Linked DNA regions of Homo sapiens. The protein of the gene in region 2 interacts with the protein of the main gene of each other region in a pairwise test. Each region holds a gene or a part of one and is shown on either strand. Other genes may lie near its edges.

Region 1 (11,152 bases), on a different chromosome or scaffold from region 2:
AGTTCAGACTATTTATAGGCTCTTCTTTTTTTTTTCTTTTTGAGACAGGGTCTTTCTCTGTTGCCCAGGCAGTGGTGCAGTCTCCATATCATAGGTCACGATAACCTCAAACTCCTGGGCTCAAGAGATCCTCCCTCCTCAGCCTTCTGAATAGCTAGGCATGCCACCATGCTAAGCTAATTTTTTTATTTTTATTTTTTTGTAGTGATGGGGGTCTCACTATGTTGCCCAGGCTGGTCTCAAACTCCTGGCTTCAAGTGATCCTCTCACCTCAGCCTTCCAAAGTGTTTGGCATTACAGGCAGGGGCTGTAGCATCTGGCCATATAGGCTCTTTCTAGCTATTTGTCCTCATTTCTAGAAACTTGGGGCACCCGAAGTCTCCCTGGGCTGCTTTCTCAGGCAGCTCTGTTCTCCGTTAGTCCTTGTAGTTTCCAGAGTGCCAGCAGCTAGACAGAGTGATGTGTCTTACTTTCTGGATCTCTCCTAGTTTTCCTGGATTTCTTTCACCCAGAAAATAGCAAAAAGATCAAGATTATGTTTTTCAAATATGAATGTGAAAAATTCCTCCCAACTGTTACCAGCAATTTGAGGTAGTTTCTCAGTCACTTTATTCTTTGTGCCTTTTCTGAATAATTTCTCTCTCCAGTTTTATGTGAGATTTTGATTTGAGAAATGATTTGTTTCTGTGCTGTCCCTGGTAAAAACTTTAGCAAGAGTTTTTTCAAAGTGAATTCTGAAAGGGCTTAAGAATCTTCAAGGATAACCGTCTTAAAGAAGCAAACTTAGGACACCCTAATAGAAAGTAAATTTTAATAATTTCATTCCACTCAAGAGTGTTTGCCTTTAATATGAATTTGGTTAAACTCAAAACACAGAAATCAGTCTTTATGAGACCTGGTGTTATGTTGTGTTGGATGGGGTTGCTATTTGCCTGAGGCTATATTTAAAAGTATTTCTTGGATGCTTAATTTTAGATAAAAGAAGTAAGCCAACTGATATATTTGCAATTGGTTTTGAAGAAATGGTAGAATTGAATGCTGGAAACATTGTGAGTGCAAGGTAAGCTAGCCACATTAATCCACTGAAAAATTTGCCAGTTGAGGGAAACTATGGAGGACAGATAATTAAGTAATTGTTACAAGGATAGTTTGAAATAATAAATGGAAGGGTGCTCGTAAAACTGTAAAAGAGCATTTCTCATACTTTTGGGTCTGAGGATCTCTCTGCACACTTAAAAATATTGAGAATGTTAAATAACTTTTGCTAATGTTGTTTATATCTTTGTTATATTAGGAATTAAAAATGAAAATTTAAAAACATTTAATTCACTTAAAAACAATAATAAACCTATTACATGCTAACTTAAAATAAATTTTTTGAAAAATAACTTTTTCAAAACAAAAAATTTACTGAGAAGGGTGGCACTGTCTTGTAGTTTTCCAAATCTCTTTAATGTCTAGTTTAAGACAGCCAGATTCTTACATCTACTTCTGTGTCAGTCTGCTGCAGTATGTTGTTTTGATTGAAGTATATGAAGAAAAATCACATAACTATGTAGTTTGAAAAGGAAATATTTTAATAACCTTTCTAGATAATTTCTTCTCTGATACTACACCAAAACAGATAATTTATTCTCTGCTGTAGTATAGATAACAGAGAAGTATTATCTTGGTGTAGTGTGTGGATAAGACACTATACCAAATGGTAGTGTCCTAAAGGTTAGTTGCAAAATGGAATCTGAAACCATATTGATGAACTTTTTCTGCTCTATTATCTAAAATTCATCTTTTACCTTTGCGTGATTTTGTAACATCATGTATTGGTCACTTGGGTTCCCTAAGTTATGTAGCACTTCCAAATTTTAACACATTTCATTATATAATATCAAAGCATCATATTGGTTAATTACCAGCATTGGTAACTGCATCAGAAAATAATTGTTGGGAAGCTGTAAGGATCATGGTAGCAGATACAAGTTTTCCAGAATACTAATTTTTGCCTGAAAACGCAAGTTTTTCCATTGAAAACAAATGCTCTTGGTTGTTTTTCTTAAAGAGACAGGCTTAGTTGAAAAAAATGCCACATAACCTAAATCTGAATAACCACCGTCTGTCATTAGTTCTTTTAAGGGAAAATTGTATTCCAAAAAAAAAGTGGCAGTTTGACTCACAATTTAAAGCATTTTCTTTTTTTGTTACAGATCATAAGTCAGTATGCAACACAAGTGCTTTGTATGTATTTCCTGTGTATCACACAGAATATTAAAAAGATGTGACCTGGGTTGAGCTTTAATAAAATCAATAATGTCTGTTGCTTCATCAAGGACATTCTTAGGCGAAGTGGCATTTTTTTTTTCCTGCAAGTATATGGCAGTGGGGATTGTAATGATGACTAGTATAGTTTGGTGCCTAAATTCGAGTGAAAGCACCAGCACTTTTACCCATTGTTGCTTTTGCACCATCAGTGCAAATGTTAGTCAACACAGTGAAAGATGTCTTAATAGTATGATGAAAATAGTTGTGACCCCATGGGCTTTGGGAACCCTCAAAGATGTCTCCAGATCACACTTTGGGAACGCTGTTCTGAATCCATATTATAAATACAAATTATATGAGTGAGGCTTAAAACTTCAGTGTTTTATTTTAACAAAGTATGCTTGCTTTTAAATTTCAGCAGTTTCCCATCTTTTATGACATTTTTAAAGATTTTTAGGAGAAAATTATAGGCTGAAATAGTCATCAATCTTGCAAGTGACAAATATTTTATTAGGCAAAATGAAAAACAATTCACATCAGGAAAATTGGAAAGAAATCAACTTCACCCATTTTGTTGTTTGATTATGTTTCCTGAAAAATATATTCAGGTCCTAAACTAGACTATAACTCTGAGGGTTCCTAGTACTAAGTGCATGGATCAATTGTTTGTCTAAATAGAGTTTAATCAAATTCTTCTTTAGGCTAGGTTTAATCAAATTCTTTAGGCTGGGTGTGGTGGCTCATGCCTGTAATCCCAATGCTTTGGGAGGCCAAGGCAGGTGGATCACTTGAGGTCAGGAGTTTGAGACCAGCCTGGCCAATATAGTGAAACCCTATCTCTACTAAAAATACAAAAAAATCAGCTGGACGTGGTGCCCCGTGCCTGTAATCCCAGCTACTCAGGAGGCTGAGGCAGGGAGAATCGCTTGAACCTGGGAGACGGAGGTTGCAGTGAGTGGAGATCGCACCACCGCACTCCGGCCTGAGTGACAGAGCAAGACTCTGTCTCAAATATGTATATGTATATATATATACACACATGCACACACACACACACACACACACACACACACACACACACATATATATTCTTCTTTAATAAAGTAGTGAATATTTATTCATTTATTTAAGCAGTACCTACTGAGTACCACTCTTAAGTACCTCCAATGAATCAAACAGACAAAAATCCCTATCTTCATGGACTTCGTATTCTAGTGGGAAGAAACGGACAGTGAACAATAACAACAATAAGTAAATTATACAGCATGTTAGAAAAGTGCAATGGAAAAGAGAGGAAAAGGAGATCAACTATAGGGACACAGGGAAGTGTTGGAAGTCTCAAATGAATGATCAAGATAAGGTTCATTGAGAAGATGAGGAATGAGTTTCAGCTACTTGCGGGGCTGAGGTGGGAGGATCGCTTGAGCTCAGGCAGAGGTTGCAGTGAACCGACATCCTGCCACAGCACTCCAGCCCTGGGTGACAGAGTGAGACCCCATCTCAAGAAAAAAAGAGAGATTAGGAGACATGACAAGCAAATGCAATATGTAGACCTTGTTTGGACCCTTTTTAAAGAAACAAACCAACTGTTAGAAGATTTTTTTTTAATAAATGGGGAACTTTAAGTATAAACTATTAGATGATATTAAGGAATTATTAATGTTTAAATGTGATAAGGTGAAGAGGATGGAAAAAATAGATTGGCAAAATGTTGGTAATTTTGAAATGGGTATATGGTGGTTTGTTTAATGATTATGTCTTCTAATTTCCCATAGCAAGATTTTTTAAAAAGACATTAGTTATAATTTAGAAAAATTTTGAAAAGTGGGGAAATGTATTTGGAAGCACATATAGTCACATATATGTGCACAGTTAGCTGTCCTTATCCATGGGTCTGACATCTTTGGATTCAACTCATCAAAATATTAAATATTTTTTAAAATTGTGTCTATACTGAACATGTGTAGCCTTTTTTTTTTTGTCTTTTTTACTTGCAGACTTTTTTGTATCGTTATTCCCTAAACATTACAATATAACAACTAATTACATTGTATTAGGTATTATAGGTAATCTAGAGATGATTTAAAGTATACGAGAGATTTACATGGGTTATATGCAAGTATTACTCCATTTTATGTAAGGGACTTGAGTATCCTTGGATTTTGGTATCATGGGAGGTCCTGAAACCAATCTCCCACAGATACTTCTATACTTCTCTGTGATCTTAATGAATACTTAAGGAAAAAGTAAAATGTATAAGTTTGAATTTACTCACCCAGTGAGTAGCCATTTAATGTCTTTATATTTTCTTTGTAAAGAAGTAATAGATTAGATTTTGAAATGTGGTTTTCTTTTGGCTAAATTGTAGATTTTCCTTTTTAAAGGAAACAAAAACAGCCTAAGCTTCCTTCAGAGTCTTAGGATATTTGGGTAGATAAAGGTATAATTGACAATTGTCATAAAATAGGCTATTGTCAATACCTTTTTAAAAAATTCTCTTTTTAATATTTTCTTGTAGCACAACAAATCAGAAGCTCTGGGCTGTAGAACTTCAGAAGACAATCTCCAGAGACAACAAGTATGTGCTGCTGGCTTCTGAACAGTTGGTGGGCGTCTGTTTGTTTGTTTTTATCAGACCACAGCATGCTCCTTTTATCAGGTCAGTAAACAGAACACTCCTCTAAGGCTACTTCCTACCATTAAATAACAAGAAAAAAGCCTAGAATGTTTATTGTTTCAGTTCTTCAAACAAAAACTATCCATAGTTCTTGTTTTAAAATGGGGTTTTGGGGGTTTTGATTAAAGACTCACCAATAGCTTCACTGTACTATTTCAAAGGCTTGCCCTCAAAGTACCATACCATGTGTACTTAAATGATTATGTATATTCCTCATTTCCTATGCACATGGAACTCTTGAAATTTCAAATCTGCGATTTAGAATTCTTTGTTTCAAAGGGATGTTGCAGTTGATACTGTGAAGACTGGAATGGGAGGTGCAACTGGAAATAAGGGAGCAGTTGCAATCCGAATGCTCTTCCATACAACCAGCCTTTGCTTCGTCTGTAGCCACTTTGCTGCAGGGCAGTCACAAGTCAAAGAAAGAAATGAAGATTTTATAGAAATAGCACGAAAATTGAGTTTTCCTATGGTAAGCTCTTGCTGCTTGTTCTTGAAGATAAAGCTTTGAAATATATTTTAATTTGCCCCAAATTCTACATCAATGTTTTTGGAAATTTAAGATAGTTCCTAGAAACATTAAGAATATTCACCTAAATAGATATTTCATGAGTATTAACCCAAAATATCTGAGACAGGGCTCAGTCAATTTAGAAAGTTTATTTTGCCAAGGTTAAGGATGTGGCCATGATATAGCCTCCAGAATTCAGAATGACATGTGCCCAAGGTGGTCGGGGGTACAGTTTGCTTTTATACATTTTAGGGAGACCTGAGACATCAGTCAGTATGTGTATGATGTACACTGGTTTGGTCTGGTAAGGCAGGACAACTCGAAGTGGGGGCTTCCAGGTTAGAAGTAGATAAGACGCAAAAGGTTGCATTCTTTTAAGTCCTAGATCAGCCTTCCACTGAATACACAATTTAGTGTGGCTCAGTGAATCTGCATTTTTGCATAAACAATAGGGCAGAGGAAGCAGTCAGATGTGCATTTGTCTCAGGTGAGTCTCAGAGGGATGACTTTGAGTTCAGTCTATACTTTGTCCACAAGGAATTTCCTGTGGGCAAATTGTGAGGGAGTTATGTAGCTTCTTATCTTTGGAGCTATCTTATTTAGGAGTAAAATGGGAGGCAGGTTTACCTGTCATAGTTCCTGGCTTGATTTTTCTCTGGGCTTAGTGATTTTGGGGTCCTGAGATTTATTTTCGTTTCACATGTGTTATTACTGTTGGGTCAAAGAAACAGGACATGGGAGGAGACAAGCATATCTCAGGCAAAGAAATAGTTGTAAAACATTTTTGAACATTGATTGTTTTGAATTTAAAATTCTATCTCATTGCTTTCAGGGAAGGATGCTATTTTCCCATGACTATGTATTTTGGTGTGGTGATTTCAACTATCGAATCGATCTCCCTAACGAAGAAGTTAAAGAGCTCATAAGACAGCAAAATTGGGATTCTCTTATAGCAGGAGATCAACTTATCAATCAGAAAAATGCTGGACAGGTATATCTATACTTGAGAAAATACTTGCATTAAGATTTTGGGTCGTGAAACATGCCTTTTTAAATCAAGATGTTTTAAAATTTTCTTGGGGTCTTTTTGTACTTAAATATGCATCTGTAGGTAAACAGATAATAGAATTATCTTTCCTTAAAGTGTAGCAGGATGAGCTGCAGACAAGAACCCTTCAGACACCAAGTTGTAGAAGGAAAGGGCTTTATTCAGCTGGGAGCAGCAGCGGACTCACGTCTCCAAAAACCGAGCTCCCCGAGTGAGCAATTCCTGTCCCTTTTAAGGGCTTACAGCTCTAAGGGAGTCCATGTGAGAGGGTCGTGATCGATTGAGCAAGCAGGGGGTATGGGACTGGGGGCTGCATGCACTGGTAATCAGAATGGAACAGGACAGGGATTTTCACGATGCTTTTCCATACAATGTCTGAAATCTATAGATAGCACAAGCGGTTAGGTCAAGGGTTGATTTTTAACTACCAGGCCCAGGGCACAGTGCTGGGCTATCTGCCTGTGATTCCATTTCTGCCTTTTAGTTTTCACTTCTTTCTTTGGAGGCAGAAATTGGGCATAAGACAATATGAGGGGTGGTCTCCTCCCTTATTCCCCCCTTTGAGAACTTCACTCATTAATGGGAGTTCTCACTTTCATCCTCATTACCCATGTCTTCTTGCAAGACAGATTGATAGTGATTCATATGGTACACTTGCGCTGAAGCATTTTGGTGAGCTAAGGTAGTGATGAAGCTTTTTATCATTTGAAGAAGTACAAGTAGCAAACAAGGGAGCAGTAAGCAGGTTCCTATTACTATTATAACTCCTATTATAAGAGTTTTAAATCCTCCTAGCACTGGGAACCATTTTTCAAACATGGCCCCCGGATCAAATCCATGCCACACTTGCACAGGCACATGTGTCAGTTTTGTCATATCTCTAATTATGTCTTCAACTACTTGCCCTTCATCATCTGTGTATAGACAGCAATTAGTAAGGTTAAATTTCCCACAGACCCCCACCTTCAGCTGCTAGCAAGTAGTCGAGAGCCAATCTATTTTGATAGATAGCATTTCTCATCTGAGACTCTTGCCAGGGCAGTATAGTCAAGGCTCTGCCAGTTTTATTAGTGATTATTTCTAAGACAGCTTGTAACCGTATGATTCGGTTGAGCATGTAAATGGGGGTCCAGTATCCCCACGAGCCATCTTGTGCCCAAGTAGCAGGTCTGTAATATTGTATGATTCTCTCAGGGGGCCATTCATCATCTTTCCAATTTCCTATAGCTATGCTTCTCTTTTCTCGGGCAGCATAGACAGGGAAACCCAGGAGTTTGCCTGTCTTTATGGGCAGTAGGAAGAAAGATGGTTTAATAGTGCCAATAACACAACTACCTGTCCACTGGTTGGATAATTTGGCACAAGCTCTATGCCCACATATACAGTATAATCCAGTGGGGGCTGTCCAGTCCTGGTGGGACTCCGGATGGGTCCACACGGTTTGCAACTTTGGGAATTTACTAAATGGATTCCTTTCTGTGTGATTTGAACTCCACCAAGTGACTGTTTTTGTGGTACCATTATACAGTTTCTGTCCCAGACAACTAAGTCATCCTACGGGGTGAGTGAATTCTTTTCCTTCTCCAGCTATGCAATATTGTCCAATAATTGAGGTTTTTAGGACCCAGAAATTATCAGGGTGATTCTTTTGAGCTGGGAATTCATCAGGAACTGGGTCTGTAGGTACTAATTCTCGGGCTTCTCGTGGCCATTGATCTCCCATTACAGTTCCTCCACATACATAATGTGAAGCAACATTGAGAGACTAGGCTACATGCTTGGCTAATTGCAAAAACAAATTTCTTGTTTTTCCTGGAATTTCTGGTACTGGCACATTTAGTTCATCATAGAAAGTTTGAAGCACTGGCTCAGGAGAGTGTTTGTAAACTTCTCCTCGAACTAAGATATTTACTCGAGGATCCAGTCCAGCCCCATTGATTCCTAAGGTCACACGCTCCCCTTTTTTCCAGCGAGGATCAAGGGGATTGGTTATTACTAGCTCTAAGGGGTTACATTGTCCCTTAGTACAGGAAGGGCCACTTTTTCCTTTCTGAAGCTGCACTGGATCCTTTTCATTTTTTATCCAAGTGGCCCAAATGACACCAGTATCCACATTGATTTCCACACAGTCCTAATTCATGACAAATATACTTATTTTTGGTCATATAGCCTTTTTCCCAATCAAAAGCCACACCCCTTCCTAACTTATTGCTCTTAATGACAGCACAGGCATCAAATTTCAAGATTATGCGTTTGGGCACCCCTTTTTCTTCTGTTTTGGCTAATACTTGTATCATTTACAAGTCCCCATCAGTCTTCAGTCCTTAATCTTACTTCAAAAACTGTGGACCTGGGAGGCCACAGAGGGATCATAACACACATCTGGGCAGTCGTTTCCTAGGCTACATACCTCGTACTGAGTGTCATTATATAAACACGTTCCTTTTAAAGTTCCTAGGCATTCATAGTAACTATAGAACAGAAAGATTGTTTTAACTTGTTACCCTACCTCAGTAACCTGATGTATACACTGAGAGCAGTCTTCTATGCAGGGAAAATCAGTGGAAGTTTTTACTATACAAGTCCAAATTATAAGGAAAATGAGTCCCACGATGATTCTCCTCATGCCTCGGCCGTGCGTAGACCAGTCAGCTTCCGGGTGTGACTGGAGCAGGGCTTGTCATCCTCCTCAGAGTCACTTTCAGGAGTTGTCTGGGCTCGGTTTTGCCTCCCAAGTTTCAGCAGCTGCAGGTTTCACACGGCTGTGGTGGATCCAGGCTGGGATTCCTTCTCCTTTACAGCCGTGGGGGTGGTCAGGATGATGGTGTGAGGTCTTTTCCACTGTGGCCGCAAAGGGACTACGTTCCAGTCCTTGATCCACATGCGATCACTTGGAGAGAAAGGGTGAACTGGGGAGAATAAGCTGACGGGACACCTCTCATTTACCCAAGTTGAGATTGTTTGTGTAATTTTTCCCAAAGCCCGTAGCTGTCACTGTAACTCAATTTCACCTAACTCTCGGGGAGTGCCTGGAAGTCCCCCTAGTATAGGAGGAGGCCTATGATACAGTATTTCATAAGGGGAGTATCCTGTTAGAAGGGATGCATCTAATTTTAAACAATACCATAGGAAGGGCCTGTATCCATTTTAATCCTGTTTCCTGACATACTTTCCCTAAACTATTTTTGATAGTCTGATTCATTCGCTCCACCTTTCCAGAACTCTGAGGTCAGTAGGCGGCATGTAGTTTCCAAGTGATTCCTAATGCCTTTGCTGTCTTCTGTACCAAGTCAGCCACAAACACCGGCCCGTTATGTGAGCCAATTCGTAAGGGCAGTCCAAACCTAGGAATAAGATCTCGGAGAAGCACACGGGTTACTTCGTAGGCCTTTTCAGTTTGTGTTGGATAAGCCTCCACCCACCCAGAGTAAGTACACACAAGAACCAGCAAATACTTGTTACCTTCACATTTTGGCATTTCTGTGAAATCCACCTGAAGACCCTCAAAAGGAGCCGCTCCATAAGCTTGTATGCTGGGTGGAACCGTGGGGCCTTGCCTCACATTGCGCTGTCAGCAAGTAACACACCATTGTGCTACTGCTTTGGCAAGGGCTGGCAAGTGTGAGATGTAGAAGTACCGGCCTAACAACTTTTCAAGTGACTCTTGACCTAGAAGAGTGGTTTCATGCATGGCCAGTACGACTGTGGCTCTCAGCAACTGTGGCACAGCTACCTTCCCATCTGGCAGTCTGATCCATCCTTCTTTTATTACTTGCCCCACTTCTGTGTGGAAAAAGTCTTTTTCTTCCTTAGAATAGGTAGGTACCAGGTCAGGTGTTTGAGGGAGTAAGGGGGCTGCTACTGATGCACAGTAAGGGGTAGATGCTGCTTTTCGAGCTTCTGAGTCAGTTTGGGAGTTTCCTAAGGCCACTGAGGTGGAGGCTCGCTGGTGTCCCCTGCAGTGCATGACTGCCACCTTCTGAGGTTTCCACACTGCCTCTAATAATTGTAGAATTTCTTGTTGATATTTTATGTCCTTTCCCCTAGAGTTTAACAGGCCCTTTTCCTTATATAATGCTCCATGCACTTGGAGGGTTAGAAAGGCATATCAAGAGTCAGTGTAGATGTTTACAGTCTTACCTTCACTGAGTTCTAGAGCCCGAGTTAAAGCAATGAGCTCAGCCTTCTGGGCTGAAGTGCCCTGTGGCAATGGTTTGGCTTCAATGACAGCGTTCAAAGTTACCACCGCATATCCTGCACATCTTTCTCCATGTGGATTGATGAAGTTGCTCCCGTCCATGTATAACTCCCAGTCTGCTGATGCCCATGGCTGGTCCCGAAGGTCAGGTCTGCTAGAATAAACTGAGTCCAACATGTCTACACAGTTATGCTTGACCAGGCTCTCTGATACTGGGAGCAGGGTGGCGGGATTTAGGGTGTTACAGACGTCAGTGATTATGCGGGGATTTTCACATAGCAAGCTTTGGTACTTGGTTAATCTAGCATTTGTTAGCCAATGATGTCCTTTGGTATTCATCAAAGTTACCACAGTATGGAAGGCCTTTATATTCAGGTTTTGCCCAAGGGTTAGTTTATCTGCTTCTTGTGCTAACAGGGCCATTGCTGCCAGGGCCCTTAGACATGGGGGCCAGCCTTTGGA
Region 2 (11,152 bases):
GGGTTGAAAAATGTGTGTGCCCTGGAGCTTGTACCCTTGCTTTTCTTGGGAACCCTGTGGTGTGACCACTACTATGTAAACAAGCCAGAGCTAGACTGTTGTGACAAGAGACACATGGCCAAGCCATCCCATGGCCCCAGCTGAGACTGGACCAACTACCAGACATGTGAGTGAGGCCACCCTAGATCATCCATTCCCAGCCAAGCCACTAGCTGACCACAGTGATTGAATGAACCAGCTGAGACCAGAACTGCCACGCCAGTGCACAAAATCATAAGAAAGTATAAACATTTATTATTTAAGTTACTGAGTTTGGGTGATTGGTCACACCAAAAGCTAACACAAGAAAAGGTGGCTAAGCAGAGCTAAGATGTATTGAACATTGGGAGACATATCCCCTAATGGCTCTTTACACAATAGTCAGTGGGACTCACTATTGATGCGACTGTATGTCAACTGTCATTGAAATAACCTGACATAGATCCAAAATTGACCATACTCCCTAATACTCATTTCAAGACAATGTTAGTTGTAATTCTTGGAATGCTACTGTATGGGCTTCAGGGGTTTATAAACCTCCTGAAGTTAAATGAAGAATTATATGTATTTTTTCATCTGAACTGAGAAAAGATGTTAAAACTACAGAGGATAACAAAGAAATATATATGTACAACTGCCTAGAATTAATAATATCTCATCATATTTGCTTTGGATTTTTCTATATGTAAAGCAAATAAAACATTACTGACTCAGTCGTCTCCCTTTCCTCTTTCCCCCTTCAGTATTTTGAACTTGGTGTGGATCTTTCTAGTCTGTGGATTTTTTTAATTAATTTATTAATTAATTTATTTATTTTTTGAGATGGAGTCTGGCTGTATCGCCCAGGCTGGAGTACAGTGGAATGATCTCAGCTTACTGCAACCTCCTCCTCCTGGGTTCAAACGATTCTCCTGCCTCAGCCTCCCGAGTAGCTGGGATTACGGGCGTCTACCACCACGCCAGGCTAATTTTTGTATTTTTAATAGAGATGGGGTTTCGCTATGTTGGCTAGGCTGGTCTCGAACTCCTGACCTCAGGTGATCCACCCGCCTCGGCCTTCCAAAGTGCTAGGATTACAAGCATGAGCCACCACGCCCAGCCTATATTTTTTAAAATAATATCCACACAAATACATATATGTACACATACACAAATAAATGTATAGACCCCCAAATAGCAGTCTTATTTTGTGTTTTTGACATTTTTCTTACATGGTTTCAGATATGCGTCTTTCTACAACTTGCTTCTTTACCAAACACTACCCTTGTGACACCTATGCATATTGATACCATATTATCAAACAAGCCACATGTATTTCTCTTCCAATGAACATTTAGATTGTTCCTGTTTTGTTTGTTCTCGTGATCTGCGGAATGTTTATTTGTTATTATAAACACTGTCAGGGAAAAGGTCAGTAGCTTCCAACATATTCTCAGAGGACTCAGGACATTCTCCCATCCAAATGTTAGGAATCTCTGATAATCTGATGTGGAGAAAGGGCACTGTCATCATTTTGCATTGATGCATATTTCTGCATTACAGCATTCCCAAGCCTTGAAGGAAGCTATCTTTACTTACATTCTTAAAATAGCTTATTAGATTCTTCTGCATTTAAATCTAAAATTTTCTATAAGGTCTGCATCTTCCTAGGACACCAAAAACAGCCCTATTATTTTTTCATTGAAAATTTCTTAGAATCAGATAATACTGTCCAAAATATTCTGTGACCATGTAATGTTATCCTAAATTGCTGTCAACATCAAATGGTGGTCACACCGAAGAAATTATTAGGAGACTAACAATGTGATATTCTAATTTTGTTGTTGTATTCTGTAATGTATTTAAGAATTAAACAACTAAATCTCTGTTGTTCTCACATTTTCCTATTTTCTATTTTTTTTAATCCTAGTTAAGATTAGAGAGCCTTCTAGTATGACTTTCTTTTTTTTTTTTTTTTTGAGACGGAGTCTCGCTGTGTCACCCAGGCTGGAATGCAGTGGCACGATCTCGGCTCACTGCAAGCTCCGCCTCCCAGGCTCACGCCATTCTCCCACCTCAGCCTCCTGAGTAGCTGGGACTACTGGTGCCCACCACCATGCCTGGCTAATTTTTTTTGCATTGTTAGTAGAGACGGGGTTTCACCATGTTAGCCAGGATGGTCTCGATCTCCTGACCTCGTGATCCACCCGCCTCGGCCTCCCAAGGTGCTGGGATTACAGGCGTGAGCCACCATGCCCGGCCAGTATTACTTTCTTTTACTTTTATGCTTGCTCTCACTATGACATCTTCTAGTCTCTATGGCAAAGTCCCAAAGCAAGGAAATTAAAACTCAGAACACTACTACTCATAACAGACAATGTTCTTAAGTCTAAATTATCCCCTCTGGTATTACTGAATAAAATCAACCAAAATTGGTGATTTTCTATCAGCCTTACCTTCCCTCAGGAGTATGTGAAATAATGAAAAAGTATACAAATACGTGGACTCGGCATTGTCAAATTTAGAAATAATTTATTGAACCACTTTTCAAAGAGCATGGACTTAGCAGATCTGGCTGGTCACATACAAATTGTGTGGCCCTAAGTAATTCCCCTCCCCTCACTACACTTTGATTTTCTTACCTGTAAAATGGCAATAAAAACCAACACTGGTGCTAGAATGAAATGAAATCATGTATATGGAAGCCTTTTGTTATCATTTCTCCACTATATGGGGAGCTTCTCATAAGCAGAGGCAGAGAGACTAATTCATCTTTTTGGAGACGGAATCTTGCTCTGTCGCCCAGACTGGAGTGCAGTGGCAAGATCTTGGTTCACCACAACCTCTGCCTCCCATTTCAAGCGATTCTCCTGCCTCAGCCTCCCGAGTAGCTGGGATTACAGGTGCCCGCCACCCCACCCAGCTAATTTTTTTGTATTTTTAGTAGAGACGGGGGTTTTGACATGTTGGCCAGGCTGGTCTCGAACTCCTGACCTCAAGTGATCTGCCCTCCTCGGCCTCCCAAAGTGCTGGGATAACAGGCCTGAGCCACCATGCCCAGCTCTAATTCACCAAGCCTGTATGCTAACCTCCTTTGCCATGGCAATGTCTTCTCTCCACTTTGAGGTTCAAAGCTCTCCATCTCCATCCACTCCCGTTCTCTGGTAAGACCACTCATATTTGCCAAGGAAGACCTAGAGGTCTGAGTACCCACTGGTGTCACATATTTGAGTGTCAACGCCAGAATCCAGGGGGAGCACCAATGGTAGGTACCTTTGGGCTAGAACCTGGGAATGTGGAGTATGCATCCCAAGCTCACCCAAAGAGGGGGCTTCTTATCTCAGGAGCCAAAGATTAAGCAGCCCATTACTGACCACAGCGGTTCTAGTGGGTGGAAGGAGGAACTCTCCCCTGTACACACTTCTGGAGGAAGTCTCCATACAGTTATGACACACAGTGAGTAATCCGGCTACATGGGATTATAATACTGCCACCAAAATATAACAAATATGCTTATCAAGAAAAAGGATTTGTAAAACAAGTGGAAAAATAACAGAACACAAATTGTATATTTGCCCCATAATTACAACCACATAAAAACAATGTGTTTGAGGCCCGGTGTGGTGGCTCATGCCTATAATCCCAGCACTTTGGGAGGTCAAGGTGGGTCACTTGAGGCCAGGAGTTCAAGACCAGCCTGGCCAACATGGTGAAACCCTGTCCCTACTAAAAATAAAACAGTTGGCCGGGCATGGTAGTGTGTACCTATAATCCCAGCTACTCAGGAGGTTGAGGCAGGAGAATCGCTTGAAACTGGGAGGCAGAAGGAGGTTACAGTGAGCCGAGATTATGCCACTGCACTCCAGCCTGGGCGACAGAGTGAGACTCCATCTCAAGAAAAACAAACAAACAAAGAAACAATGCATTTGAACAGACTGAAAGGAAACCCAGAGACAAAAATAATTACTGTGTTAGGGTGTGGGGGTACTTTGGGTGAATTATTCTAAATTTCTTTTTCTTTTTTTTTTTCTTTTTTGAGATGTGCCCCAGGCTGTAGTGCAATGGTGTGATCTCGGCTCACTGCAACCTCGGCCTCCCAGGTTCAAGCAGTTCTCCTGCCTCAGCCTCCCAAGTAGCTGAGATTACAGGTGCCTGCCACCACACTCGGCTAATTTTTTATTTTTAGTAGAGACAGGGTTTCACCATGTTGGCCAGGCTGGTCTCGGACTTCTGACCTCAGGTGATCCCTCCACCTCAGCCTTCCAAAGTGCTGGGATTACGGGCGTTAGCCACCGCGCCCGGCTGAATTCTTCTAAATTTCTTATAATGAAGTTAGTACAGTAACCTTCCACCTACAAGCAGACTTTCTTGAAAAGTCCCAGAAAGAAAACTATCTGGTCACGTCCAGACTCTTAAAGAATTATTCCCACCACTGTTTGGTAAGAAAAACCTTATTAGACTGGGATCTAATAAGGTTAGATCTGCACTGGATCAGATCTAACTTGGATTCTGGCACCAGCTCAGCTAAAAACTAGCTATGAGACTTTGGAAGTAATTTAACCTCTCTAGATCTCTCTGTGAAGTTAACAAATGGATTTAGGATAGAATTTTTAAGCTCTCTTCTGGGCTTTCTACAATGTAGCCTATGTTTTACTTTCTATAATGTAACGTATGACCATAAAGTGCTATAAATGAATTTGTAACAAACATTATCAGAGCTCAAAAGACCCAAGAGAGTGTGCCTCCTTCAGAGCAGTTCTTATACTTATTCCAGGAAAAAGGGACCTGCTGGATACTGCATATCTTTAGTGGGGCTAATTGTTCCGCCTTTGAGGCACAATGTAACTTCTGGAAACACCTGAGAGGGATGTAATACAAAGTCTGGTGAGTAATAGGAATGATCACACTGGGCACTAAGGAGTTAAAAAATAAAAAATAAGGCCCTCCCTCCTTCCCTCTTCTTCCCTTCTTTCTCTCTTTTGAGACAGAGTTTCACTCTTGTTGCCCAGGCTGGAGTGCAATGGCGTGATCTAGGCTCACTGCAACCTCCGCCTCCCAAGTTCAAGTGATTCTCTCTGCCTCAGCCTCCCAAGTAGCTGCGATTACAGGCATGCACCACCACACCTGGCTACTTTTGTATTTTTAGTAGAGACGGGGTTTCACCAGGTTGGCCAAGCTGGTCTCAAACTCCTGACCTCAGGTGATCTGCCCACCTCGGCCCCCCAAAGTGCTGGGATTACAGGCGTGAACCACAGGGCCCAGCCCTGTCTCTTTCTTTTTTTTCTCTCTCTCTCTTTCTCTCTCTCTCTCTCACTCTCACCCAGGCTGCAGTGCCACAGTTACAGCTCACTGCATACTTGAACTCCTCAGTTCAAGAAATCCTCCCACCTCAGCCTCCCAAGTAGCTGGGACTATAGTGCATGACACCACACGTGGCTAATTTTTAAAATTTTTTTTGGTAAAGGCCTGAACGACCACACCCGGCAAAAAAATAGGTTTTATTACATAGCTCATAAATGACCATTCAAAAGTGCTTTGAACAACGGCAATGACGTCATTCTCATGGTGGTAACTCAGAAGGGCGGGCCAACTTCATTCACATGTACAGTTTGAGTTCTATGGGTTGTCAAAGTTCATGTCACTATGTTAGGGCTGGCTTTTACAGTTGTACTTCTCTTAAGTGTGGCTGTCCCAAAGATATATGAAAAAAATACTTTGCTAGGATGCCCCAAAACCTTTTGTCTCTGCCAACATAAATTCTGAAACTGAAATTCAAAACACAATTTGTTTACCACTATTACAGAATGTGCTTATAAGGCTGAGATGTTTATTTTAATACCTTTGGCATTTAACCTTTAACCTCTTATTTACTTTGTAAATATTTCAGCATGGTGAGAAAAAGAAAAAAAAAGTTTTTAAAAACTCACCATTAAGAAACATTTTAATCACAGATTGGTAAAAACACAAGTTGCTGCATTTTCGCAAAAAAAAAAAAAAAAAAAAAAAAAGAGATGACTCAAACTTGGAAAACCATGACTGTACATAATTCCTATATATCCTACCATGAAGCTTATAATACCTTGCACTTACACAGAAGATTTAAAATATTTCTGCTTGTTGAAGCAGATAAAAAGAGATTTCTCAAATTCCTAATGAATAATAAGGCCCCACACTTGGCTCATGAGGAAACGCAAGGTACTATATGTTCTTTCACTGAGTCTCACAGGGGCTCATCACATGCCCACACTAGGCACAGAGGCAAAATGTTGTATTCTAAGTTATCAGAATGCACGCCGCTGCTCATTATCTAACCCTCAGGAAAACGCCTGAGACAGACCGCCAATTCATGAGATTCAACTGAAAAAGGAGTGAAAAACAAGAAGTCCATCATGTGACATTGGAGGCCATGGCATTTTCAGTGGAGGAAGGAGTTGAAGGGTTGAAGAGAAAAGCTCAATTTGCAGCCTCACCACTCGTGGAACCATCCTACACAGGTGTTGAGATAGCGCCAAACAGTAGCAGCTGGATGCAGATTTTCCCTGTTATAATAGCTTAGAGAATGCATAGGCTGAAAATACCAGGCTATTCCCTCTCTTTAGGGAGACCCAGTAGGAAGGTGTGGATGTATGGATAAATACTGAATGCCACTACTGGGTATGCAGTGAACGTTTAGACATTCTTCCTGGTGAGTGAATGAGAAGAATCACTGTGGTTCACAGAAGGACACCATGTTAAGACTTACAATAAAGTGGCTGCAAACAGCTAATCTGCAGCTGTGTTTGGCCCCTCTGAGATGATCAAATCACATATAAAAATTGGCAGAGGCCGGGCGTGGTGGCTCACGTCTATAATCCCAGAACTTTGGGAGGCTGAGGCGGGCAGATCACCTGAGGTCAGGAGTTTGAGACCAGCCTGGCCAACATGGTAAAACCCTGTCTCTACTAAAAATACAAAAATTAGGCGGGTGTGGTGGTGGGGCCTGTAATCCCAGCTACTCAGGGGGCTGAGGCAGGAGAATTGCTTGAACCTGGGAGGCAGAGGTTATAGTGAACCGAGATCGCGCCAGTGCACTCCAGCCTGGGCGACAAGAGCAAAACTCTGTCTCAAAATAAATAAAAATAAGAACTGGCAGATATAGCATAAAAATCTAGATTTCTAGTTTCTCTTGAAAAACAAGATAATTTGGTAATATGGTCGATATAACCATGGCCTAGAATCAAGTAGTGGTGCCTCCTAGAATGGCACATATATTCCATATTTACTCTCTAGAGGCCAGCCTCCCTCCACCAAATTATAAGACATTTAAGTTTGCAACCACTGGCCGGGCACAGTGGCTCATGCCTGTAATCACTTTGGGAGGCCGAGGCAGGAGGATCACGAGGTCAGGACTTTGAGACCAGCCTGGCCAACATAGTGGAACCCCGTCTCCACTAAAAAATACAAAATATTAGCTGGGCATTGTGGCAGGCACCTGTAATCCCAGCACTTTGGGAGGCCGAGGCAGGAGGATCACGAGGTCAGGACTTTGAGACCAGCCTGGCCAACATAGTGGAACCCCGTCTCCACTAAAAAATACAAAATATTAGCTGGGCGTTGTGGCAGGCACCTGTAATCCCAGCTGCTTGGGAGGCTGAGGCAGGAGAATCGTTTGAAACCGGGAGGCGGAGGTTGCAGTGAGTTGAGATCGCGCCAGTGCACTCCAGCCCGGGCGACAGTGAGAGACTCCAACTCAAAAAAAAAAAGTTTGCAACCACTGACAAGACTGTAGTCCTCAGCAAAAGTGTGGTGGAGGTGACTTTCAACTTCAGTAAATGTCTGCTTCTTATACTTCTCCATCCCTCTCCATCCACTGCTCCACCCATTTTCTCTCCAAGGAGATGCCTGGGCTGTCAAATATTTCCCACTAGGATGGCCCACTCACACTTGTCCCTAGATAATGTCCCGGACTCTAGGTATTTCCCCAACGCTTTGCCTCCATCAAAACTTTTTTTGTGCTTGATCCCATTCCTTTCTGGTTTTGTTTTGTTGTATTGTGTTGTTTTGACTAGGAGACTACTAGCAATCTGATAAACTAATCTGTGGAAATCAAGTAGGTTACCTTCCCAGGAAACATTTGAAATGTATTCCAGACTTTCTAAATACATGCCATGCCATCACCTAAAGGAACTTACCTACCTTATCATCAGCTATCCATCAGATTTCTAGGTTGTAAATCTATTCCTGGGTATTCTTATGTGTCATATCTATAATTTCCTCACAAGTATATGCAAGTAAGGAAAAGGGAACAGCTCTTGAACATGTTTTGAGGTGATGGTCAATTCAGATTTGCTCAAATATTTCTGTATATTTAATGCACAGAAACCTTGCATAAAAATCAATCACAATTTCTGGATCCAAAGCACATAGCGGACCTACAGCCATGGGTTTCAGTCTATCAGAGAGTCCAAACTGGTCATGGCCACAAAAGCAGAACTTCCTTTGCAGATGATGATAAGCCCAGATTCTACGAAGGAAGCCTTAGATGGGTATTACGGTTAAAGTCAACAGAGATTTTTTTGTACTCTGCTAAACAACCTCCACTAAATTATAAAGATGTGCAGGGTTTTTTTTAACTTCTTCAAGTCTCCTTAGGAAAAAGACACAAGTAACTATTGCCTGGTAGTGTTCCTAGTTTTCTCAAGATAGAAAAGTGTCCCAAAGTGAGTTTTCAGGAGGAAGATAGAAGGTGAACTACAAGCTGTACACTGTGTTCATGAGTCAGAAAATGAAAATGGCTATTTTCCTTATGAGTCACAACTGAATGAGTCTTAGTAGGGCCTCAGGTACAGATGGAGAGCCCTCCTACTATGCTACCAGACTTCCTAAAAGACACACGCACACACACACACTCACACAGAAGAAGTCCACGGTATAGGTGTTCTCCCTATAGCCCAGCCAAGGGCCTTCTTTTTCTTCTTCTTCTTCTTAATATTTTTTAACTGAAACAGGGTCTCACTATGTTACCCAGGATGGTCTTGAACTCCTGGGCTCAAGTATTCCTCCTGCCTCAGCCTCCCAAAGTGCTGGGATTACAGGCGTGAGCCACTGCGCCTGGCCGCCAAGGGCCTTCTGATGAATTTTAGCCTCCATGCTAATCTTCAGCCACACCCAAAGAAGGTAATGTCCTTTCCCTTCCTGTTCTAAGCAGCTGAAGGGATACAACTTGGGCAGGCCTGGGCAGATGTGGAACACAAAATGAAGTATCATTTGGCTTGACAGAGTCTGACATAAACATTAAATATTGTAACTTGGGTTTCTGATTATTTAAGATGATGCTCTATTCTAAGGCAACTTCACATACATAATGAACAATTTTTCAAGTCAGGAAAGAAATGATTAACTTTGGCCAAATCACTCTGGATCCAGTAGATCTATCAATGGCACATCTCCTGTTTCAGGACAGCCAGCTGTTTCAACTTTTCCATCAGTGAATTGTGACTTCAGCAACCATATCTGATGCACAGATAGTCGCCTGGGGGCACACAACATGCCCATCTGTGCTGATGGCAGGGAGCCCATCAATAGGGAAGTCACACACTGTCCTCAGATAGAACCACCTCTTCCCTACAGCATGCCTTCTTCGCATGCATTTGACCAACCCTCTACTTCATCTGCAATGGGGCTGAATTAAGCATGGTATCACAGGTTTCGGAAAAGGCAACCTAGAGTATATTTCAGTCCATTCAGCATGAAAAATGAGTTTAACTGAGGGGAAGTTAATTTCCTCAAGGTACCACTCAAGTACTTAAATTCAGTAAGATTCTTTAAGTTCTTGACATAAACACATTGATTTTTTTAAGAAATATTGACCCACGGAAAATGATTACAGCAATTCTCAAGTACCAGGACTATCACACTGCTTCAAGGGACCAGGTGCCCAGTGAGGTAGCTTCACCCAAACACATGCCCAATGGGAATGGTTCTCTGCTGGGGTGAGGGAAGGGGTCCAAAAGTAACGTAGAGTAGACTGACTTCTTAAACCTTAAAACTAGAAGAGGAAATGTATAGACAAAGTGTTCTCTTAGATGGGGCAAAAGTGACTTAATTTTGGACTATGTAAAAAGAAAAGGCTTTGGCCGAGGATGCCTTGAAAGGTTTCTCGTTGATGTTTGTTTGTAATCATTCTTTGGAATAAACAGCACGGGGCAAGGGGGCTTCTGAGCTTTGTGTGCAGGTTTCGATGGGCCTCTGCTGCACTTCCCTCAGGCTGCTCACCGGGATATCGATTTTTTAATTAGTGTTGTGCTGGTTATCATTTTGACTTGGCTTCTCTTCCACAGCCATTAGAAAACAACAGCAAACCAGAAGAGGACGAGATAATCCACCTAAGCAGGACTACTTGAAAAGAAGCAAGTGTGGAAACTATGAAGCCTTGTAATAGATTTTTTTTTTTTTGATGAACTGCCGATCTCTTCAAAATAGAGTCCTTGCTTTCGTGCCCCGCAAAGAAAAGTACACCACGCCAAAGCCCAAGGGAGGTGGCTAAGGTTATACAGGGAGGGAGGGGAGTGTAGCTGGACTGGGGAGTTGGAATAGCAGAAAAGTCACAAGTCAAAGAGGCGGCCCCTTCCACACATTCCCAAAGTGCCAAAGGGAAAACAGCAACAAACTCGAAACTCGCGAGGGCGTCTTCCCGTGCGAAGCGTCCCCTGGATCCCCGAAAAGCCCCGATCCCCTCGCGCTTGGGAAGGGGTGGGGTCCTCTTCAGGAGGTGTTTACTTGGCGTCCGGGGCGCGGAGACCCTCGGGGCCGGCGCCCGGCACAGGTCCGGGGCGGCGTGGTTGCCGCCCGCGCCCGAGTCTCCCTGGCTCTTGACAGCCCGCCGGCCGCCAGGTGCTCGCCCTACCTGGCGCCCCCGCCTGCCTTTGTGCGGCCCGCGCCGCCCCTCGCCAAGGCGGGCCAGGGACCGCCCCCGCCCGCGTGCCGCTGCCAGGCGGGACAGCTGCGGGCGCTGCCGGGCAGCGGAGCGGCGGCGGGGAGGAGAGGGAGTCGGCGCGAGGGTGCCCGGGGCGGGGCGGGCACGGCCGCGGGGAGGGCAGGGGACGCCGCCAGCGGCTGCGGCGCGAGTCTCCGAGCACCTCCCCTGCCGGCTGCG

Evidence for each region.
Region 1: the proteins of MYO1E (region 2) and SYNJ1 interact in a two-hybrid assay, tested with the Homo sapiens proteins (one study listed by IntAct).

What each region holds. Positions count from the first base shown.
Region 1 is NC_000021.9:32,660,196-32,671,347, reverse strand, and holds part of SYNJ1 (synaptojanin-1), read left to right. Parts: intron 1-975; coding exon 976-1,060; intron 1,061-4,774; coding exon 4,775-4,915; intron 4,916-5,212; coding exon 5,213-5,405; intron 5,406-6,276; coding exon 6,277-6,435; intron 6,436-6,631; exon of another isoform or gene 6,632-9,849; intron 9,850-9,954; exon of another isoform or gene 9,955-10,120; intron 10,121-11,152. UniProt on the Homo sapiens protein: Phosphatase that acts on various phosphoinositides, including phosphatidylinositol 4-phosphate, phosphatidylinositol (4,5)-bisphosphate and phosphatidylinositol (3,4,5)-trisphosphate. Has a role in clathrin-mediated endocytosis.
Region 2 is NC_000015.10:59,360,997-59,372,148, forward strand, and holds part of MYO1E (unconventional myosin-Ie), read right to left. Parts: intron 1-11,152. UniProt on the Homo sapiens protein: Actin-based motor molecule with ATPase activity. Unconventional myosins serve in intracellular movements. Their highly divergent tails bind to membranous compartments, which are then moved relative to actin filaments.